Homo sapiens: one gene and its partners. The protein of the gene in region 2 interacts with the protein of the main gene of each other region in a pairwise test. Each region holds a gene or a part of one and is shown on either strand. Other genes may lie near its edges.

Region 1 (7,032 bases), on a different chromosome or scaffold from region 2:
GGAACAGTTTCATCCTGAAACCACCCCACCACCTCTCCGTGGAAAAAGTGTCTTCCACAAAACCGGTCCCTGGTGACAAAAAGGTTGGTGACTGCTGATAGGTCTGGCTTCAAGGGTGGACAATTTAAGGTGTATCTCTGGCTGGAACCCTAGCAGTCTGAGGTCCTCAGGAAGGGTGTCCTGTGGCTAGCTGCCTCTCCAGTGAGCCCCGGGCGCTTCTCACCTACAGATTAAGGACCTGAAGCTGAAGGTGATGGACCTCCGTGGGAAGTTCAAGCGCCCGCCCCTGCGTCGAGTCCGTGTCTCGGCTGACGCCATGCTCCGGGCCCTGCTGGGCTCCAAGCACAAGGTGTCCATGGATCTGCGGGCCAACCTCAAGTCTGTGAAGAAGGAAGACACAGAGAAGGTGAGGTCCCTTTCCTCAGAACATTCCACCCTCTGCCCTACCAGCTTTCCCCTTGTCAACCCCTCACATGGCCTCAGGCTGGCCCAGGAGCTCCTGTTGGAGACCAGTCAGCTTGACAGACAGAACATTCTAGAATGCTTTGGGAGACCAGTGTGGGAAGAAAGAAAGAAGATTTGCTCCCTTCCTTCAGGCTGTTCCCAGTCTGACGAAGAAACTAGGACATAAAGAAAGCTAGACCCCAGACGGAGAAATGAAGTAAAAATCTTGTTCCCAGTGTGAAGATAATGTGGAGATTTAGGGTAATGGTGGAGATGACTGCCTGGTCACCACAGGGAAAGGAGACAGCAGCTCATCTTGGTTATAGCCACACACGAGCATAGACATTAGAGAACTGAGTTCAACCACCCAGCAACAAATTATTCAAAGTTGGTTGAATTCACAGTATATGTGCCCCAAATTGATAGGCTCTGTAAGGAACAGGGATGAAGGAACAGTCTCTGGCCCAAGAAGCTTCAGAGGAGAAGAGATAAGCCAGACAATATACTGAGGAAATGGAAAAGCAGCCGCATTTGCAGGGGAAGACTTCTTGGAAGAGGTGGCCTTGAGCCTGCTGAGTGCCAGACCAGGAGGGTGGCATGGAGCCTTGGAGGAGGTTTTGCTGAGGTGCACTGAGGTGGGAACTAGCCCCATAGCTGCCACTTTCACCCAGTGCTCCCAAGCCACACAGCTTCCTTTTTCCTGTGGGGCCTCGGCTTGGCCTGTGTCCACCTGCCTGGCTGAGTCCTAGGACCTTACCAGCTGGGGAGGGGCATCAGGATTTCTTATCATCCGAGGAGACTGGTTTCCTATCACCCAGCTTCTCTTGAGCTGGGGGGCCGTCCAGCCTGGTAAGTCCCTGATGTGTGTGCCACTTGTCTACAGGAGCGGCCTGTGGAGGTGGGTGACTGGAGGAAGAACGTGGAGGCCATGTCTGGCATGGAAGGCCGGAAGAAGATGTTTGATGCCGCCAAGTCTCCGACCTCACAATAGAGGTACCTAGAGACCAGCTCCCTTCTCTGGGGTCCATCAGAGTCTAGAGGATAATGAGGGAGTCCACAATGGGCAGGCGGGTTGTACTTAGTGTGGTGCACGGATGCACGGACTAAGGCACCGATGAGACTGATTTGAGTCGGCTCTCCTGGGCTCAGTCCTGGCTCCAGCACCATGATACTTGGGCATGTCATTTCTGTTTGGCGGCCCTTTTTGTTCCCATTATCTATGAAATTGGGGGCTGTATCAAATCAGTGGTTCTCCAAGTGTGGTCCTGGGACCAGCAGCGTCTACATCACCTGGGATGCAAATGATCAGCCCCCACCCCAGATCCACTAAATTGGAAACTCTGGGGTGAGGCCAGCCTTCTAGGTGATTCTGATGCACATGAGAGTTTGAGAACCACTAGGTTAGAGGGTCCCTGGGATCCCTTCATCTCTGACTTTCTGAGAATCTATGCACTTTTAAATACCTCCTGGTGATGTCCTTTATTTGTGCTCCCTGCGAAGTACCCAGCACTCACAGTACCTGTTCCCAAGGAGCTACCACTCACAGAAGCTAAGACTTCCCACCATCTGAGGAAATAGCTGGAGAAACTGGGCAAAGCAAGGAAATCAGGCCACGTAAAACCCTCTACGGAAGTGCTGAGAGAATGTGCAATAGGGCAGGCATCCACCAGACAGCACTGGTCAGAGCAGGCTTTCTGGAGAGGAGGAGCTCTCTGAGGATGCGACGAGCGAGTGTTAGCTGATAAAGGGAAGGGCATGTTGAAGGGCTGATGGTGCAACAGAAGCATGGAGGTGGGAATTAAGCAGCCACAGAGTAGCATGGCAAGGCTAGGTAAGAGCTGAGGGCCGCAGTGTGGAGGAGCGGTGTGAGGGGTCCCAAAAGGGGAGCAACTGTGCCCGAGGGCCGAGAAGCTGAGGTTTTGTAGGAGCCCTTATGAATGAAGATCCAGTCCGGGGTGCGCTAGGGCTGAGAAGCCCTGGGGACTGCATGTGCTGTAGGTAAGTCAGGGATTCATGCGCTGCACACAGGTCCCCGGGAACTGATGGCTTTGCCTCTTTGTCCCTACAGGCCAGCTTGCTGTGCTGCGCTCTGAGCTCCTGCTTCATGCTTCTTCTCCAACCCAGCTCACTCACCTCTCTGCCTGTGTCTGGAGCATCCCTTCCCACCTCTCCCCCACTTCTTCCCTCCAGCCTGCATGCCCTCCTCTGGAACTGGGATTAAACAGATACCCAAGAGGCAGGAAAAACGCGAGTGTCTGAAGACCTCACCCTGGCAGGGTGGGCTTCTATCCACCCATGAGGCACCTGGGGCTTCTCAGCCACCCCGTGGTGTAACAAGTGGAGGAGGAGGAGGGGGTGAGAACACCTTTCCTCCAGCCCTGTGCCACACTCCTTCTATGTGTGTACAGTGTCCACAGGCATCACACCTTCTTCATTAAAAACCCAGTTTCCTGGTCATTTCTGCAGCTCTGACTGTGAGCCCTGAGAAGAAAGGGAAGACTTGGGGCTTGGGAAGAGAGGGCTGTGCTGGGCTCCAGTCACCCTGTCTGCAGTCCGGAGCTCGGGATCTGAAGGGAGGGCTAAGGAATTGGTGGCTGCTTGCCAGGGTCCCCTGGGGCCCCTTCTGCCCAGTCCCTGTGACGTCACACTGCACACACTCACCACCCAGGATGCTCAGCTCACCAGAGCCCTGACCTCCGAGAAATGACCCCGTCCTGCCCCTGACTCTGGCCATCAGAAGAGGCCTCTCCATTAAGAGCCGCTTCTCCTGCCGGCTTTCATACTCTCCTTCCTCTGCAAACCTGGATTAACTCTCCCTGATGTGTGCTGGGTTGAGAGGTCAGGGCACTTTCAATCCCTCACCTAGTCCTGCTGCACAGGGCAGGAGGCCTCACAGAAGAGATACTTGCAGTTCCAGGCCTGGCCACCAGGTGACGCCTTCCTTCTCTCCTGGGCTCTCCTGTCCCTCCGGCCTCTGCTCTCCCCACGTTCACCCACCCTCCTCCCAATTGTTTCCCCTTCACACTCCTGCACTGGTCCTATCCCCCAGGACTGATTCTTTCCCGGAGATGGGGTGGCCACTTATCTGTCCTCTGGATCAGGTCCTTTCTCCATCCCACTACCTCCTGGGTCCAAAGCCTGGTGAGAGCATAGGGCCTTCTGGGGTGGAAGGGGGGTCTGGGGCAGCCTCTCTTCCCCCAACATACTCACTAGAGTGGCTCCTGTGAAGCAGAGACCAAAGTTCTGACTTTTCTTTTTCCTTTTTTTTTTTTTTTTGAGATGGAGTCTCGCTGTGTCACCCAGGCTGGAGTGCAGTGACGCGATCTCGACTCACTGCAACCTCCGCCTCCCAGGTTCAAGCGATTCTCCTGCTTCAACCTCCTGAGTAGCTGGGATTACAGGTGCGTGCCACCACACCCCGCTAATTTTTGTATTTTTAGTAGAGACAGGGTTTCACCATGTTGGTCAGGCTGGTCTCGAACTCCTGACCTCGTAATCTGCCCACCTCGGCCTCCCAAAGTTCTGGGATTACAGGTGTGAGCGACCACATCCGGTCAAGTTCTGACTTTTCAGGGCAGTGGGATGGTGACTTCTGAGCTAAGCCTGCAAGGGAAGTGGCTGTTCCCAGACCTGGGGTCCCTTGGCTTTTCGACCACCCTAGCACTGGCCCTAGGAGGGGCTGAGTTATCAGAGCAGCAACCCTTCTACCCACCCTACTGAGTCCCCATTCTACCTTCGAATCCCATGTATTATCTTCCATAAGTGCCAGAAATTGGTACAAAGTGCAGTGCCAGCTGCTCCCCAGGGCATGGTCTGGCTCTCTGGGCTGCTGGGCTGCCAGCCCCTTTCAGAAAGCATGGCAGTGGGAACCAGCAACTTGGGCTACCTTAGGGGAAGCAGCACTCTGCCCAGGGTTCTTGCTATAAATAGGTCAGTGGGCAGAGAGGCAGATGTGTGCAAAAAGCACAACCCCAATCACACACAGAAACCCGTAGGCACGGACACACCCAGTCTCAATGCACGAAGTTGGAGAACCTGACAGGGCTGGTCCAGGCCACAGAGGATGGGGTTAGGCTTCATGCCTTCATGCCCAGGCAGCCACAGAAACCCACTCTTCCCCGCCTCACAGGGCTCCTCCGGTTGGCCTGGATCCAAAGCGATCTCCTTGTTTCACCTCTTTCCAGCTCTTCCCTAGAGCCTGGCCCCAAGTTCCAGAGTCAAATCCCAGTTTTGCAGTCAACTATTAACCTGGGGCCCTGGCAGATTGGGGTATCCACCCAGTCATGTAAAGGCAGGAGACCTGCTCTGGGCCTGACTCAAAGCAAACACGTGGGTGCAGAAGACCCATGGGAGGAGGAGGTGGGGCCCACTCAACACACCTAAGCCAGTGGCCCTCTAGGAGGGGCAGAAGAGCCAACCAGAGGGTTCCTGGAGGTCATCGGGTTCCTCCTTCTGCTTCCAGGCAGCAACAGACCTAATTCATCTCCTGTGAGGATGGAGCAAGGGCGAATATAGGCATAGACATATCTGGAGCGCAAGGATTGAGAGGCCCTGTGGACAAGGGGAAGGAGAGCTTGGGGGTGGGAGAGGGATCTATGGAAGGGGCTGTTGTAGCCAAGAATGGGGCCTGGGCTGGGGGCCTGGCCTCTGGAGAGCCCTGATTCTACTCCAGTCTTCTCTCACCATGGAGACAACACCAGTAGAGCTGGGAGCTGGGGCCTGCCACTGAGTAACAGCTCACACATGTAGCACACTTATGCGTCAGGCACCAGCATGTACACCTTAATTTATTTAACTTTCACAACAACCCTAGGAGAAAGGTACAGCTACTATTCTCATGGTACAGTGGGGAAAACTGAGGCACAGAGAGGTTAGGGACTTTTCATGATCACACAGCTAATAAGTGGTGGTCCCAGGATTCAACCCAAGAAGTCTGTTAGAATCCATACTCTTATCGACTATTTTAATAACAGCATTTCAATAATAGTAATATGTGATGTTAAATGCTTTATCTGAGTTATATCATTGCATTCTCACAAAAATGGTACATTTGTTAGCTCAAATTTACAGATGAGGAAATGGAGGCCTGGAGAGTTCAAGTAGCTCACTCTAAGTTACAGGGTTTGCTAGCTGCAGACTGGAGACTAGATCTCAGGTCACTCTGCCTTGGGGTTGCCCTTTTCTGAGATCAGACTGGCCTTAACAGAGCCCAACTTTCTTGGAAGGACACAGCTGGGGGTCGAGGGTCCTGCATATGCACCTGGGGAGTCCCCACACACCCGCACCAAAGGGGAAACATTCAAAGGAGATGCAGGTGACATACAGATGGGCTAAGGTGAGGCCTTCCTCCAACATGGGGCCCTGGCTGAGAGTGGAGGGATAGGGTGCTACTTGGGGGATATCTATTACTAATCAGCACACAATAGCTGGGTGGGCACCCCCTCTCTCTGCAGCTGGTGGAGATGGGCCTGGTGCTCCTCTCTGCTTGGTAGGAATGACCAGGGCAGGATGCCACCTGCTACACTCTTGCCTGTCCCAGAGCCCTTGGGAGACCAGCTGTTGCTCCCACCTTTCCCCACAGGGTGCCCGGTCCCCACGGCGCAAGGAGGCCAAGCTCAGCTGTGTGTCTGAGCCCACTCAGCAGCAGGCATGATCAGGGCAGGGCCCAGCGCTAAGGGCTGCTGGGGCTAAAGTGCCTTGCTGAAGGAGGGGCAGAGTTAAACATTAGCCACAATGGCCCCCCGCGAAGTGAGTCATACTCCCCACAAGTCTCTGGGCTGGGCAGCCGGGGGCGGGGGGGTTAGCTTCGTTCCAGGTGGGTGACCAAGCTGCGGAAGCCCAGGACAGTTCGCTGGGACCAGTGCTAATGGCAGCTTCTGCTCCTGACCCCCATCAGGTCTCTTTCCTCAGACATCCCCAAAGCTTGTCTGCCTGTGGGTCTTTCATTAAAGGTGACGGGCAAGGGTTTTCTCTTCCTTCCAAGACACACTTCTAGGCTGGCTTGTGGGTCCCCTGAGACGAAGGCTGAGCAGGGTGAGCCTCGAAAACCCCATAGCACTGGCCCAGAGCACTGCGGTCAATGTCCGAAGGACCAGAGAGGGAGGGTGACTTGCTCAAGGTCACAAACCTAACTGGAGCTAGGAAGTAGGTCCCCAGACTCCCAGTCTGAGGAAATTGGATGTGGACAGGGCTTTGGTCTCCTGGCCAGAGGCAAACGCCCAGGGATCTGAACAGGCTGCCCATCTCTGGCCTCAACTCAGCACCCCAACTGGCTCCAGTGCCAACCATTGGCCTCTCTCACTGGTTGGCACAGGCTGGGTGAGCCTGGCCCTTTGCCCTGGGTTCAGGAGAGAGGTATGGCTTTGCCTGGCAGTCAGGGGAGGTGTTCCAACCTGGGAGCCCCTGGGGGAGGAGCGTGTGTGTGAACGCTTGTGCCTGTTCATCAGAAGGGGTGAGCATGGTGTGTATGCGTGGGCATGCAGAATGCAGGGTGATGACCTGTCTGCCCGCCCTGAGTGTCACAGACACCTGTGTGTCCCCTGTACTAGTGCCTCCCAGATGCTCTTCTCCTGACTGGCTCTTTGTGAC
Region 2 (7,032 bases):
CTTCCTTCTTAAAGGGACCGACACCCAAGCCTTCTTCCCCAGTCTGGAGGAATCTTTACAGAAGGGTTGGATGTTTGCGGAGAAGCACCACCCCATCCCCCCTTATCTTCGCCTCCAACCTTGTCTGTTATTTTCTCCCCCATATACATTCAAAGGTTGGGGCTTGGAATTTAGGATTGCAGAGGAGGCGAGCGCTGGGAGTCAGGGTCTCCAAGGTCGGGCCGGGGGCGGGGGGGCGGTGGGGCGGTGGGCAGGGGGCGAGCTGGGGAGAGAGCGCTGGGGTCACTGAATGAAGACAGAGGTTGGGACCCCCTGCACTGCTGGGTCCTAATGGAGGAGAGCAGGAGCTCTGGGCATATAAATAGAGAAAGGTCTGGGGGTTTGCACTCCTGGGTGTGCAGACAGTGGGGGTGGGGGGTCCCCACACCAGTTCTGAATGTATATCTGATGCGTGTGACCCTCTTCCTCCTTTACAGCCACCCTGACTTTCCTTCCCTCTTTTCTTCTCCCCATCCCCCCTCCTCCAGAACTGGACTCCAGAGTCCTTCCCTGGGGTCCTGGGGGCCGAGGCTTGGGGGGTCCCTCCCCAGGGTGTGTCAGGCCTAGCCCCTCTCCTCTAAACTCTTGCTAATTATCTCTTTTTATCCCCCACCACCAACAGAAGAGGAACGCCCCAAACCAAGGTGAGATCCTACAGGGTGGGGGGCCCCAGTCATACATCTTCCTAAATATTCCCTCTACCCCCAGAGACAAGGTGTGAGAAAGGCAGAGATGGAGGGAGGAAATTGAAACAGCAGTCGACATTTCTCCTCCTCCTCCTCCTCCCTCCCCCTTTCCCTCCTCCCTCCTCTCCCTCCTCCTCCCTCCTCCTCCTCCACTTCCTCTTCTTCCCCTTCCCCTTCTCCTTCTCCTTCCCCTTCTTCTTCATCGTGGTCATAGTCTCCACCCTGTTACCCAGGCTAGAGTGCAGTGACCCAATCCTGGCCCACTGCCTCAACATCTTGGGCTCAAGCAATCCTCCCATCTCAGCCTCCTGAGTAGCTGGGACCACAGGCATGTGCCACCACACCTGGTTTTTTTTTTTTTTTTTCTTTTTGTAGAGATGAGGTCTTGCTATGTTGCTTAGGCTGGTCTTGAACTCCTATCCTCAAGCAGTTCTCCCACCTTGGCCTCCCAAAGTGCTGGGATTACAGGCGCAAGCCACCATGCCCAGCCAGTCTGTTTCCTTCTTTCCACCCAGTGGTCCCTCTTCCCCTCGCGCCTTTACCATCACCCCAGCCTCCTCTCTGGCCTCCCTGCCTACAACTTGTGGCTCATCCTCCTCCATGACTCGAGAGAGACTTTTCTAACACCAGAGCTAACCCTGCCCCTCCTCTGCTCAGAATCTTTCCTCAACTCCCCACTACTCTTAAGACGCAGTCAAAGCAACTAGCCTGCATTCAAAGCCTTCCCCATCTGGCTCCAGCGGACCTTTCCGGCATCTGCCTTCCCCACTGACAGACACACAGCGTTTCATGGTTCTCTAGCCATGCCTGTGCTTTCATACCCCTGAGCCTTTGCACACACTGTGCCCTCTGCCTGCGCAGCGGCAGGTGGGAGGATCACTTGAGGATAGGAGTTCAAGATCAGCCTAAGTAACAAAATGAGATCCCCCACATCTCTACAAAAAATTTTAAAAAATTAGCCGGGCACAGTGGCACACACCTGTGATTCCAGCTACTCAGGAGGCTGAGGAAGGAGGATTGTTCGAACCCAGGATTTGGAGGCTGCAGTGAGCTATGATTACACCACTGTACTCCAGCCTGGGCAACAGAGCAAGACCCTGTCTCTAAAACATAAATAAAAATAAGGGAATGGGGCCGGGCGCAGTGGTTCATGCCTGTAATTCCAGCACTTTGGGAGGCTGAGGGGGGCGGATTACCTAAGGTCAGGAGTTTGAGACCAGCCCGGTCAACATGGTGAAACTCTGTCTCTACTAAAAATACAAAAGAATTAGCCAGGTATTGTGGTGGGCACCTGTAATCCTAGCTATTTGGGAGGCTGAGGCAGGAGAATCGCTTGAACCGGGAGGCAGAGGTTGCAGTGAGTCAAGATCGTGTCATTGCACGGCAGCCTGGGCAACAAGAGTGAAACTCCATCTCAAAAAAAAAAAAAGGGGGTGGGGTGGGGTGGGGGAATGGACTGAGAGGGATTCCAAGGCAAAGGGACAGGACTTGGGGATTGTTGGGCAAGGGGAGGGAAGCAATGGGGACAACCCCGAAGGGTCTCTGGGCTGGGGAACAAAGTGGACAGTGGGGCTGCCATCTCCTTCTCAGAGAAGTTGGTGAGCTCCATCAGGACGTCATGTGTGGGAAGGTGGGAAAAGTTCAGGAGATACCTGTTAGCTTGAGTCTGGGGCTTAGGAGAGAGTCTGGACCAGAGACAGTTGGCGAGTCCTCAGCAGTTGATGATACCTGAAGTCATTGGAGTGAATGGCATTGATGATGAGAAAAGGGAAAAGGAAAGCTCACTGGCAGCTCACGGGGCTGTCGGGGCAGGAGATAGGGATGGAACAGCCAGAGGGGTGGGAGGCAAGCCGGTATTCATTCCTGTACAATATGGTAAGCCATATTTTATTCCCACACATGACGCCCTGATGGAGCTTATCGACTTTTCCAAGATGGAGATGACGGCCCTGCTGTACACTTGGCCCCCTGGCCCAGAGACCCTTGGGGATTGTCCTCACCTCTTCCCTCCCCTTGCCCAGCATCCCCTAAGTCCTGTCTGCTTCATCTTGGAATCGCTCTTCACTGTCTCAGAAACCCAGAAAAGAGAATTCCAAGGAAGTGGCAGGAAATCAGAGCAGGCTGAGGGCTGAGCCTCAGAGCGGCACCACCCAATAGAAATAGATGGCAAGCCACACACGTCACTTACAATTTCTTACTAAAGGCTGGGCGCAGTGGCTCACGCCTATAGTCCCAGCACTCTGGGAGGCTGAGGCGGGAGGATCACTTGAGCTCAGAAGTTCAAGACCACCCTGGACAACATAGTGAAACGCCATCTCTTTTTTTTTTTTTTTGAGATAGAGTCTCCCTCTGTCACCCAGGCTGGAGTGCGATGGCACGATCTCGGCTCACTGCAATCTCTGCCTCCGGGGTTCAAGCGATTCTCCTGCCTCAGCCTCCTGAGTAGCAGGGATTACAGGCACGTACCACCATGCCCAGCTAATTTTTTTTTTTAATTTCTAGTAGAGATGGGGTTTCACCATGATGCCCAAGCTGGTTTTGAACTCCTGACCTCAAGTGATTCGCCCACCTTGGCCTCCCAAAGTGCTAGGATTACAGGCGTGAGCCACCGCGCCCAGGCTGTGAAACGCCATCTCTACAAAAAATTTAAAAATGGCTGGGCGCAGGGGCTCCTGCCTGTAATCCCAGCACTTTGGGAGGCTGAGGCAGGCAGATCGCCTGAGGTCGGGAGTTCAAGACCAGCTTGGCCGGCATGGTGAAACCCCGTCTCTACTAAAAATACAAAAATTACCCAGGCGTGGTGGCAGGCGCCTGTAATCCCAACTACTCGGGAAGCTGAGGCAGGAGAATCGCTTGAATCTGGGAGGTGGAGGTTGTTGTGGTGAGCAGAGATGGCGCCACTGCATTCCAGCCTGGGTGACAGAGTGAGGCTCTGTCTCAAAAAAAAAAAAAAAATTCTTACTAGGCATATTTTTTAAAGTACAACAATATAGGAAAAATTAATTTTCATAGCACAGTTTTTTTAATCTGTTATATAATGTTTTATCATTTCAACATGTAATCAGTATAAAACATGATTAGTGCCGGGCGCGGTGGCTCACACCTGTGATCCCAGCACTTTGGGAGGCCGAGGCGGGCGGATCACGAGGTCAGGAGATCGAGACCATCCTGGCTAACACAGTGAAGCCCCGTCTCTACTAAAAATACAGAAAAATTAGCCAGGCTTGGTGGTGGGCGCCTGTAGTCCCAGCTACTCGGGAGGCTGAGGCAGGAGAATGGCGTGAACCCAGGAGGCGGAGCTTGCAGTGAGCCGAGGTGGCGCCACCGCACTCCAGCCTGGGTGACAGAGCAAGACTCCGTCAAAAAAACAAAACAAAACCAACAACAACCAAAAAAACATGAGTAGTGAGGTATTTTACCTTCTTTTGTGTGTTTCACTGACAGCCCGCCTCAGCTGGGACCCTCCACGTTCAGGAGCCTCCCGGGGCTGGCGGCTACCTCACTGGACGGCACATCCCGGAGGTGGGAGGTGGCTCAGGGAGGTCGGGCCACTCATGGTCTCTGTGTTTCTGTCCACTCAGCCGCCCCGTGGTGCCTCCTTTGATCCCGCCAAAGATCCCAGAAGGGGAGCGCGTTGACTTCGATGTAAGTGACAAGAGACCCCTCCGCAGGCGCAGTTGCTAGTCTTTAAGGGGCCTTTGTGTCAATCATGAAAAGGCGCCGGCCGGGCGCGGGGCCTCATGCCTGTAATCCCAGCACTTTGGGAGGCTGAGGTGACCCACCTGAGGTCAGGAGTTCGAGACCAGCCTGGTTAATATGGTGAAACCCCGTCTCTACTAAAAATACAAAAATTAGCCGGGCGTGGTGGCAGGTGTCTGTAATCCCAGCTACTCGGGAGGCTGAGGCAGGAAAATCGCTTGAACCTGGGAGGCGGAGGTGGCGGTGAGCCGAGATCGCGCCATTTCACTCCAGCCTGGGAGGAAAAAAAAAAAAAAAGGCGCCGGTCCCCACTCCCCACTCCCGTCTTTGGGAAGCCTGTCCTTGGAAGAGCTGATTAGTGTCAAACACGAGGCATTGCTGCCACCTGCTGGATACCGTCCTGGGAAACGGTTCAGTTCACCATCCTGCATGGGGGAGGTGCTGGGAGGCTGCTGCCCCCTCCAGGGTCTCCTAGGACGGGCTGCCCGTGTGTCCTGCAGGACATCCACCGCAAGCGCATGGAGAAAGACCTGCTGGAGCTGCAGACACTCATCGATGTACATTTCGAGCAGCGGAAGAAGGAGGAAGAGGAGCTGGTTGCCTTGAAGGAGCGCATTGTGAGCCGAGAGTCCGGGTTCCCCCCGGTCTTCCTCCCTCCATGTGGATCCCTTGCATCTTGGGAGATGCAGATAATAGTTTTCCTCCTAGTACAGAGCTGAGCCTTAGGCTTTCGCGAATTCACCCAAGTCGGTGGCCACACTCCAATCTGTTTATTAGCCTACTCTGGGGAAGGAAGACTGGGGGTACGTCCCTGCACCCCCTTATGCTTCTCCGTTTCCCAGGAGCGGCGCCGGTCAGAGAGAGCCGAGCAACAGCGCTTCAGAACTGAGAAGGAACGCGAACGTCAGGCTAAGCTGGCGGTGGGTGCCTCCCCTGCCCTGAGAGCCCAAATGTTACTTCTTCAGCCGGATGCCCATTTTGTTATTATTATTATTATTATTATTATTACTATTATTATTATTCTTTGAAACGGAGTCTAGCTCTGTCGCCCAGGCTGGAGTGCAGTGGCACGATCTCAGCTCACTGTAACCTCTGCCTTCCAGGTTCAAGCGAATCTTCTGCCTCAGCCTCCCCAGTAGCTGGGACTACAGGTGCGCACCACCACGCCCGGCTAAATTTTGTATTTTTAGTAGAGATGGGGTGTCACCATGTTGGCCAGGATGGTCTTGATCTTCTGACCACATGATCCGCCCACCTCAGCCTTCCAAAGTGCTGGGATTACAGGTGTGAGCCACCGCATCCGGCCTATTATTATTTTTTATTCGTTTATTTGGAAATAGGGTCTTGCTCTGTCACCCAGGCTGAAGTGCAGTGGTGTGATCCTAGCTCACTATAACTAGGACCTCCTGGGCTCAAATGATTTTCCCACCTCAGCCTCCAGAGTCGCTGGAACTATATAGGCTGCGCCACTCTGCCCCACTAGTTTTTTTTATTTTTTTATTTTTTGTAGAGACAGCATTTTGCCATGTTGTCCAGGCTGGTCTTCAACTCCTAAGCTCAAGCAATCCACCTGCTTTCACCTCCCAAAGTGCTGGGATGACAGGCATGAGCCATCGTGCCCGGCCTGGATTCTCCATTTTCTTCTTTTCCCTTTTTTTTTAATTTTAATTTTTTTTTTTTCTGAGACAGTCTCGCTCTGTCACCCAGGCTGGAGTGCAGTGACGCGATCTCAGCTCACTGCAACCTCCGCCTCCTGGTTCAAGCAATTCCCCTGCCTCAGCCTCCTGAGTAGCTGGGATTACAGGCACCTGCCACCAGGCTCGGCTAATTTTTGTATTTTTAGTAGAAATGGGGTTTCTCCATGTTGGTTCAGGCTGGTCTTGAACTCCTGACCTCAGGTGATTCACCCCCTTGGCCTCCCAAAGTGCTAGGATTACAGGCATGAGCCACCATGCCTGGCCATTGTCATCATTATTACTATTATTATTATTTTTTTTTATTTGAGATAGGGTCTTTCTATGTTGCCCACGTTGTTCCCAAACTCCTGGGCTCAAGTGATCCTCCTGCCTCAGCCTCCCGAGTAGCTGGGATTACAGCCACCTGCCCGTCACCCAGCTGTGAAGGGGATTTTGCAGATGTGATTAAATTAAAGATCTTGAGATGGGAAGGTTGTCCTGGATTACCTGTGGGGAAGGGCAAGATCATCACAAGGGTCCTTATAAGAGGAAGGCCAGAGGGTCAGACTGAGAGATTTGAAGATGCTGCATGGCTGCCTCTGAAGATGAAAGAAGGTCCATGGGCCCAGACATGCAGGCAGCAGCTGGAAAAGGGAAGGGAATGAATTCTCCCCTAGAACCTCCAGAATAAATTGGTTCTGTTCACAACTTGATTCCAGCCCAGGGGGACCAATTTCAGATGTCTGATCTGCAGAGCTGTAAGATAACAAATCTGCATTGTTTTTCTGCCACTAAATTTGCAAATTACAGCAGTGATAGGAAACTAAGTTTAGGCGCGATGGCTGACGCCTGTAATCCCAGCACTTTGGGAGACCGAGACAAGTGGATCACCTGAGGCCAGGAGTTTGAGACCAGCCTGGCCAACATGGTGA
Region 3 (7,032 bases), on a different chromosome or scaffold from region 2:
TAAAAAAGTACTGACTTTTTATATTGCATCTTTAATTGAAAACTTCTTATTAAAGCAATCTTTTCTGAGCCTGCTTTTCAGGTTACTCATATTATAAAAATATGAATACTTAGTAACTTATGAACTATTCCCATGACCTTATTTTTAAAATTTAAGTTGCTGAAATGATGAAAAATCACCAATTTTGAATTTCAAGGCTTCTTTTTTGCATTCACACAGATTTTCTTTACCCCTTTTTTTCTTGACTTAGTTTTACTTATATTGTCCTTAGTGTTGTCCCCTCAGGCAGAACTCAAAGTAGTAAATTCAGAGTAGAGTAGAACTCAAAGTAGTAAATCTGAGTCAATTTGTTTTCTCCTGTTTGATATAAAAACAAGTAAAATAGTAAATTTGATAGTTGATTCGCATGAAGTTTCTTCTTCAGTAGTTGCCTTGTGGTAGCTTATCCTCAAGGGATGTGCAACAGTTAGGATTAGGTTTGGCTGTATATCACAGAAATCCAACATGAGGGAAACTGATTTTTCTCTCATACTCATGAGGTCTAGAATTAAGAAGAACAGGGATAATAAGGAGATTCACAGCGTCAGGGGCCAGGCTGCTTCTATCTTGTTGTTCTACCATCCTCATCCTCATTGTCTCGTGGTGCAAAATTGGCTACTTGAGCTCTAGCTCTCATATCCAACCTCTAGACAGCAAGAATGAAAAAGGGCAGAAAGGCAAAGGAGCCCTTGCTGGCTTAGTTGGTTGCTCTAAGTAGACTTCCCAGAGGATACATAACCATTTTATTTTATGTCTCATTGACCAGAACATATTCAGGTGGCCAGTTGGCTATACCAGTTGTTGCCAGGGAGGCTGACATCTATAGTATTTTATTTCTGCCACATTGTACCCAGCTAAACATCTGAGCTCTGATCATTATGAAGGCAAGGTGGAATGGATGTTGGGGTAAGCAGCCAGGAGCCTAGCAGAAAACCTGCTGCTGTCCAGATGGCTCAGTAACTGGGCTCTAATGTAATCATGGGAAGTAGTGCTAAGAAATCCTCTGCCTGTTGATTTGAACTTATTTCATCAATAATTACTGTCATTTACTGTTACAATATCCTAGATATATATGCTAAGTACTTTTCATACATTATATAATTTTCACAACACTGCTGTGTGGTAGGCATGGTCTATTCCATGTTACAATATGAGAACACTGAGACACAGGTTACATAACTTGCCCAAGTTCTGATAGCTATTAAGTGGTGAGTCAGACATTGCACGTGCTTAAGACCAATGGTAATAAACTGGCCCTGTGCCTCTGCTTTTTAATCTGTCTGCTTATATATCTATCCATCAGTTCCTATTGTCACCCCTGCCTCACTCCTCATACGTAAAAATTATTTGAGGTAGCTCAAACATGCACAAATAACAGAAAAACAAAAAGATACACAGATTGAGGGGAATATGGGAATACAAGAGTGAAAAAATATAATGAAGTTGAGGTACAATTGATACACAGAATTGAATGCCATATGGTCTTATAGAGGTGTCAGAAGTCTTGGTCTGGTTTGCCACTGTGTTCTATCAGAAACTTAAAGGCAGAGAAACAAGACCTTCTTTATTTAGACTCTTGGCCCCTTCACTGTTTTAGTTATATAATAATTTGAATCCTTATTATAAAGAATACTAGTTTTTTACATTGTGGCTGCAAGGAATTTTAAAAACAACTATAGTATGTTTTTATCATTTTCTGATCTTTTTGTGAGTTAAGTCAAATTGCCATTGTTTATTTTTTGAAGTGTGAAAATGCAAAGAGAGAATTTTTTAGCTGGGTCATGAGTCACGTACTTAGTAAAAACTGGGGCTTGTTTGTTTGTATAAATCATAGGAGTCTCGGCAAATACATGTTGGAAGATTCTGATCTTGATAAAAATGGTATTATGCAAATTACTTGGTAGAGCTCCTCCTGTACACCCAAGTTTGCAAACTCCTTGAGGACAAAAGACTTTGCCTTAATCATTTTTTTCCCTCCATTATCTTCAGTGTATAGGTGTTCAGAAAGAAAATAATGAATGAATGGTTAGTAATGAGAAAAGTCTGTTAGTAAATGTTATTCATATTTTTGCTGCTTTAAACTTAAGTCAGTTACTCTGCTTGAAATAGAAGTATGTCATATTTTTTATAGTACCAGCAAGTTGCATGAGAAGGGTTATATGCCACTAATGGTTAGACATTGGAACCAGAGTCCAACCCTTGAACGTGGTGCATTTGGGGATTTGTCATTACTGTGGTACACCTGGAACGTAGTGTTTGTAGAGGTGAATAGCAGGAGATAAGTCTGGCAAGCTCCTGTCAAGTAAAAGTTACTTTTTAGTTTAAGGAATGAAAGTTAGGCCTAGATTTTGAAATATATTAGATGTCATGTTAGCTTTTTTAAAAATGACATTTTTAGTGGGGAAAAGAAAGGACATGATTTGGTTTGTTTGTTTTGACAGAGTCTCACTCTGTCTCACAGGCTGGAATGCAGTGGTACGATCTCGGCTCACTGCAACCTCCGCCTCCCAGGTTCAAGTGATTCTCCCACCTCAGCCTCCCTAGTAGCTGGGATTACAGACATGCACCATCATGCCCGGCTAATTTTTGTATTTTTAGTAGAGACCAGGTTTCACTATGTTGGCCAGTCTGGTTTTGAACTCCTGACCTCAGATGATCCAACCACCTTGGCCTCCCAAAGTGCTGGGATTACAGACATGAGCCACTGTGCCCGGCCAGGGACATGATTTGATTCTAGTAACATTTGAAAAATAAATAATATAGATTCATTTTTTACATTTCAATTTCAAAATTGTGAAAAGTGAATTAACAACATTTAAGTTTAATGACTTTATTTTGTTTTATTTCTCAGGATGTGATCTTCGTGGTGGAAAGCTAAATTTTAAAACCACCCCAATGGATGCAGACAGTGATGTTGCATTGGACATTCTAATTACAAATGTAGTCTGTGTTTTTAGAACAAGATGTCATTTAAACTTAAGGAAGATTGCTTTGGAAGGAGCAAATGTAATTTATAAACGTGATGTTGGAGTAAGTATCTGAGTTTTCGTATTTGTACTACATAGCCTAATTTTATAGTTCTATGACTAATACTAAAATGTATTCATTCTACAGATAGTTTATGAGCACCTTACCATGTGCTGGTTGTCCTGGATACAGAAGTGAGCCCTGTAAAAGCAATCCCTCCTCTCATGGAGGTGCAAGCTTTTGTACATAGAGTGCTGGTACCTGAATCAGCAAAGAACTCATTGGTTACAGAGACATTTTATTGCTCTCTCAATTTATTTTAACTGAAGAAAGGGACCTTTATATTCGCACATGTACCTATTCAAATATGATTATATTTGAATTATATTTGAATGATGCCTTAATATATATTATAATTTTTATAATATTTTAATTGTCATATTCTTTAACAAAGGTAGATGGTTTTCTTTCATAACAAACTGCTGAAAATAATATGATTTATATCTTAACCTGGACATCTTAAATTTTAGTTTTTGTTAAACCTGTAATATTTTAAAGCCTGAATATTAATAAGTAATAATAAAACCTTAGTGTTTTGAGATTAACATTATAAAAGACATTGGATGTCATTATAAACCAAAGATTGACGAGAGGAATATGTATTTTACACATTTGTTATGAAAATTAAGAATGTATCTCAAGGCTCTATTTAGCTTTAAAAATTAGATGCCAGGATACCTATGTAAATTGCCATTAATTAATTAATTTTTTTTTTTTTTTTTTTTTTTTGAGACGGAGTCTCACTCTTCCGCCAGGCTGGAGTGCAATGCAGTGGCATGATCACAGCTCACTGCAACCTCTGCCTCCCAGGTTCAAGCAATTCTCCTGTCTCAGCCTCCCAAGTAGCTAGGATTACAGGTGCACACCACCACGCTCAGCTAATTTTTGTATTTTTAGTAGAGACGGGGTTTCACCGTGTTGGCCAGGATGGTCTCAATCTCTTGACCTTGTGATCCACCCACCTCAGCCTTCCAAAGTACTGGGATTATAGGCGTGAGCCACCGTGCCTGGCCGTCATTAATTCTTAGTACTAGAAACTAAGTAAAGATGAATTAAATTCAATTAAAAATTTCAGTGACTCACAAAGATTTTCAAGTTTGTCAGCAATCCCATCCTTCCTTTAGAAAAGTAATAAATATGTCTGCTCAAAAGTTTAGAGAGGAATATGCCTAACACTGCTTTGGTACTTCAGCATGACATATGGAAAGGAAGTAGTTTTTTTAAGGCAGGTTAATTGAAAATTCTGAGTTGATAGACAAGCTGGTGATGGTGAGAGACAATTAAATGTAGGATAAACTCAGTCAAGTGTTTCTCAGTCACTTGTATATGAAATTTTATAATGTATTTTAGTTCAAATTTTATCTTGATCTTTGGTGAATTTTGAGTCTGCCCAGATTTAATAGCTTTCTAGTTTGATAATATGGCATATGACAGAGAATGAAGAACACAAAATGTAACAAAAATTTTAAGCAGAAACATCTGATTCATTTATGTTAGTCAGTGAGCATTTATGTCTTTCTTACATAGAATGAGCATCTAACAAATATTTCCATTAATGAAAAGTTGGAATGAAAATTTAAATTTGCATATTTTCTTGGAGCTTAGTCCTTGACCTATTTATACACACTCTGTAGTTATTTCATTGTAACCCATAGCTTTAAATGAATTTCCAATTACATCTCCAGCTCCAACATTTCTCCTTTATTCAAGATGCCGATGTTGAACTTGAGTATGTAATAAGCATCTCAACTCTAGGATGCAATATAAAGTAGTGATGGGTACCATGAAGCAGCAGAAAGCAGAATTAGGAATTAGAAAGCAATGAAGGGATGGGTGTTTCAGGGAAATGATTAGGGAGGGCCTCTCTTCAGGAGGTGACATCTGGTAAGAGACCTGAATGAAGTGAGAATATTGAGGGGATAATATTCCAAATGAAAGCAACAGCTACTGCAAAGCTTCTGAAGCATGAACAGATTTGGTGTGTGTGAAGAACCATGCAAGTTCCAGTTATATGACTGGGGTGGAATGAGAGTTGAATTGTTTATATACTTGGAGTACATTGATTTCAAGTATATAGAGTGAGAGATTTCTATACACCTTGTATTTTTAATTAATCAAATGTCTTTTTGGATTAATATGTTCTTTGTGTTTGGTATTGTACTTGATTTCAGAATGGTAGATTTGGAGAGCAGTTATTGCAGTCTTGGATAAGCTTGGAGAGTAGTATTTGGACATTAATATGACTATATAGAACAGAACCTTATGTGAAAAATAATGCTTATGAGGTAATCAGATTTTTTTTCCCCCCAGAAAGTATTAATGAAGCTTAGAAAACCTAGAATTACAGCTACAATTTGGTCCTCAGGAAAAATTATTTGCACTGGAGCAACAAGGTAAATGCTACTTGGGTTTTTTGTTTTTATTTTTTACTTTTTCCCTCATGGAAAGGACATTTTCCTAGACTTAACAGCAAAATCATATGTAAAGTTTGTTATGTTCCTCAGTATAACATTTATTTCCTGTGTAACTGATAATCTTTTTCTTTCCTTAAAACCGTAGTGAAGAAGAAGCTAAATTTGGTGCCAGACGCTTAGCCCGTAGTCTGCAGAAACTAGGTTTTCAGGTAACGTTTTCAAATAGTATCTAAACTACAAATATTCAAGGACTTATTTTTATAGAATTAAAAATTGTAATAGACTCAAGAAATCACTATGCGTACTATTCTTATGATTAAACTTTTTCTAGGTTTTTTAATACTGCCCTTCAGTGTGAAAATTAGTAGCAAAATTTGGCTATGTGGGTATTTGTAAAGGATCCTAGCTTTTTCCCTAATTCCTTTCCCATAAAGAGACTTGTTTCCTCACAAGTTAATTTCCTTTTCAACTCTTTTTTAAGTGTTTTCACCTCTGACGTACACAAACAAAATGGTTTTTGGTCATCTCAAGAATGCCAGGTCAGAATGGTGAATAGAGAATGGCAGAGGCCGTTGACATGGACACACCAGCTGGCAGGCTCTCACACTTGTAACGTGACTGTCACTGGCATGTCAGCCTCATCACTATAACTTGATAGAGGTATACCTTTGAATAAAACGATTACATATTATGGACTTGCTAGGTCACTTGCAAATGATGAATAAATGAAAGATAAAGATGAGAATGGTCCCTGAAGATGAGGGCAAGGCTGTTTGGGATTGAGACAAGTTTGTAGAAGTGGGGATAGGAAGTTACCTTTCCCTCTGATGACTCAGTCTCTCTGAAGTAGAGGGTGATAGGAAGAGACTGAACGGCTGGTGGGGAGTGGGGGTTGGTGCTTGAGAAGGGTGGCAGTAGAGAGAGGCTTGAGTTGTACTGTGATTTGAGAGTGCTGCCACTTTGCGGTTTCCTGGCTTTGCGCAACTGCTGTGTGCAAGGCTGAGTTGAAGGATAGTTCGCTCACCCAAAATTGTGGTTTTAGGAGGAATGTTTGAAAAGATAATGAGATGAAACGAAGATGTTGGTTGGAGTGGCCAAAGTTATTAATGTTAACAGCATTATTTTCAGCCTTGGAACTTCTTTTCTTAGTGTAACATTAGAAGTGTTGAGAGAAATCCCAATTAGTTAGAAACAAATTTATCACTCTATCCCCAGAAAGAAAATAAACATCTAGCTAATCTCACAGAAATGTCATTTTGCCTTATTGCATATGAGAAAAACATCTGACTTTTGGAGCCCAGTGTACACTCTGTATTTACTGACTTTAAAGTGACATCTTTTCCATTTTTACTCTAGCAGGATGACCTGGACTTAAATTTTTTTTCCCTCACTATTCTCTCTCCTTTCTCAGTAGTTTTAAATATTTCACTTAAAGTATTAAAAAATTAAACATATGATTAGAAAGACCCATACTGTTTTGATCATGCAAATACCTCAGTTTTTAATTTTTTTAATGGAGTTTTTGAGCTTTTTAAAAAACTGAATTAAAGCT

The links.
Region 1: the proteins of TNNT1 (region 2) and TNNI1 interact in binary tests that used the Homo sapiens proteins (3 or more experiments, as listed by UniProt).
Region 3: the proteins of TNNT1 (region 2) and TBPL1 interact in binary tests that used the Homo sapiens proteins (3 or more experiments, as listed by UniProt).

What each region holds. Positions count from the first base shown.
Region 1 is NC_000001.11:201,404,731-201,411,762, reverse strand, and holds part of TNNI1 (troponin I, slow skeletal muscle), read left to right. Parts: intron 1-229; coding exon 230-406; intron 407-1,327; coding exon 1,328-1,435; 3' UTR 1,436-1,437; intron 1,438-2,512; 3' UTR 2,513-7,032. UniProt on the Homo sapiens protein: Troponin I is the inhibitory subunit of troponin, the thin filament regulatory complex which confers calcium-sensitivity to striated muscle actomyosin ATPase activity.
Region 2 is NC_000019.10:55,139,195-55,146,226, reverse strand, and holds part of TNNT1 (troponin T, slow skeletal muscle), read left to right. Parts: intron 1-661; coding exon 662-683; intron 684-4,306; coding exon 4,307-4,370; intron 4,371-4,924; coding exon 4,925-5,041; intron 5,042-5,266; coding exon 5,267-5,344; intron 5,345-7,032. UniProt on the Homo sapiens protein: Troponin T is the tropomyosin-binding subunit of troponin, the thin filament regulatory complex which confers calcium-sensitivity to striated muscle actomyosin ATPase activity.
Region 3 is NC_000006.12:133,977,192-133,984,223, forward strand, and holds part of TBPL1 (TATA box-binding protein-like 1), read left to right. Parts: intron 1-2,890; coding exon of another isoform or gene 2,891-2,897; 5' UTR 2,898-2,934; coding exon 2,935-3,069; intron 3,070-5,376; coding exon 5,377-5,459; intron 5,460-5,625; coding exon 5,626-5,689; intron 5,690-7,032. Other genes in the region: umcharacterized LOC128092253, read left to right, coding at 2,891-2,897. UniProt on the Homo sapiens protein: Part of a specialized transcription system that mediates the transcription of most ribosomal proteins through the 5'-TCT-3' motif which is a core promoter element at these genes. Seems to also mediate the transcription of NF1. Does not bind the TATA box.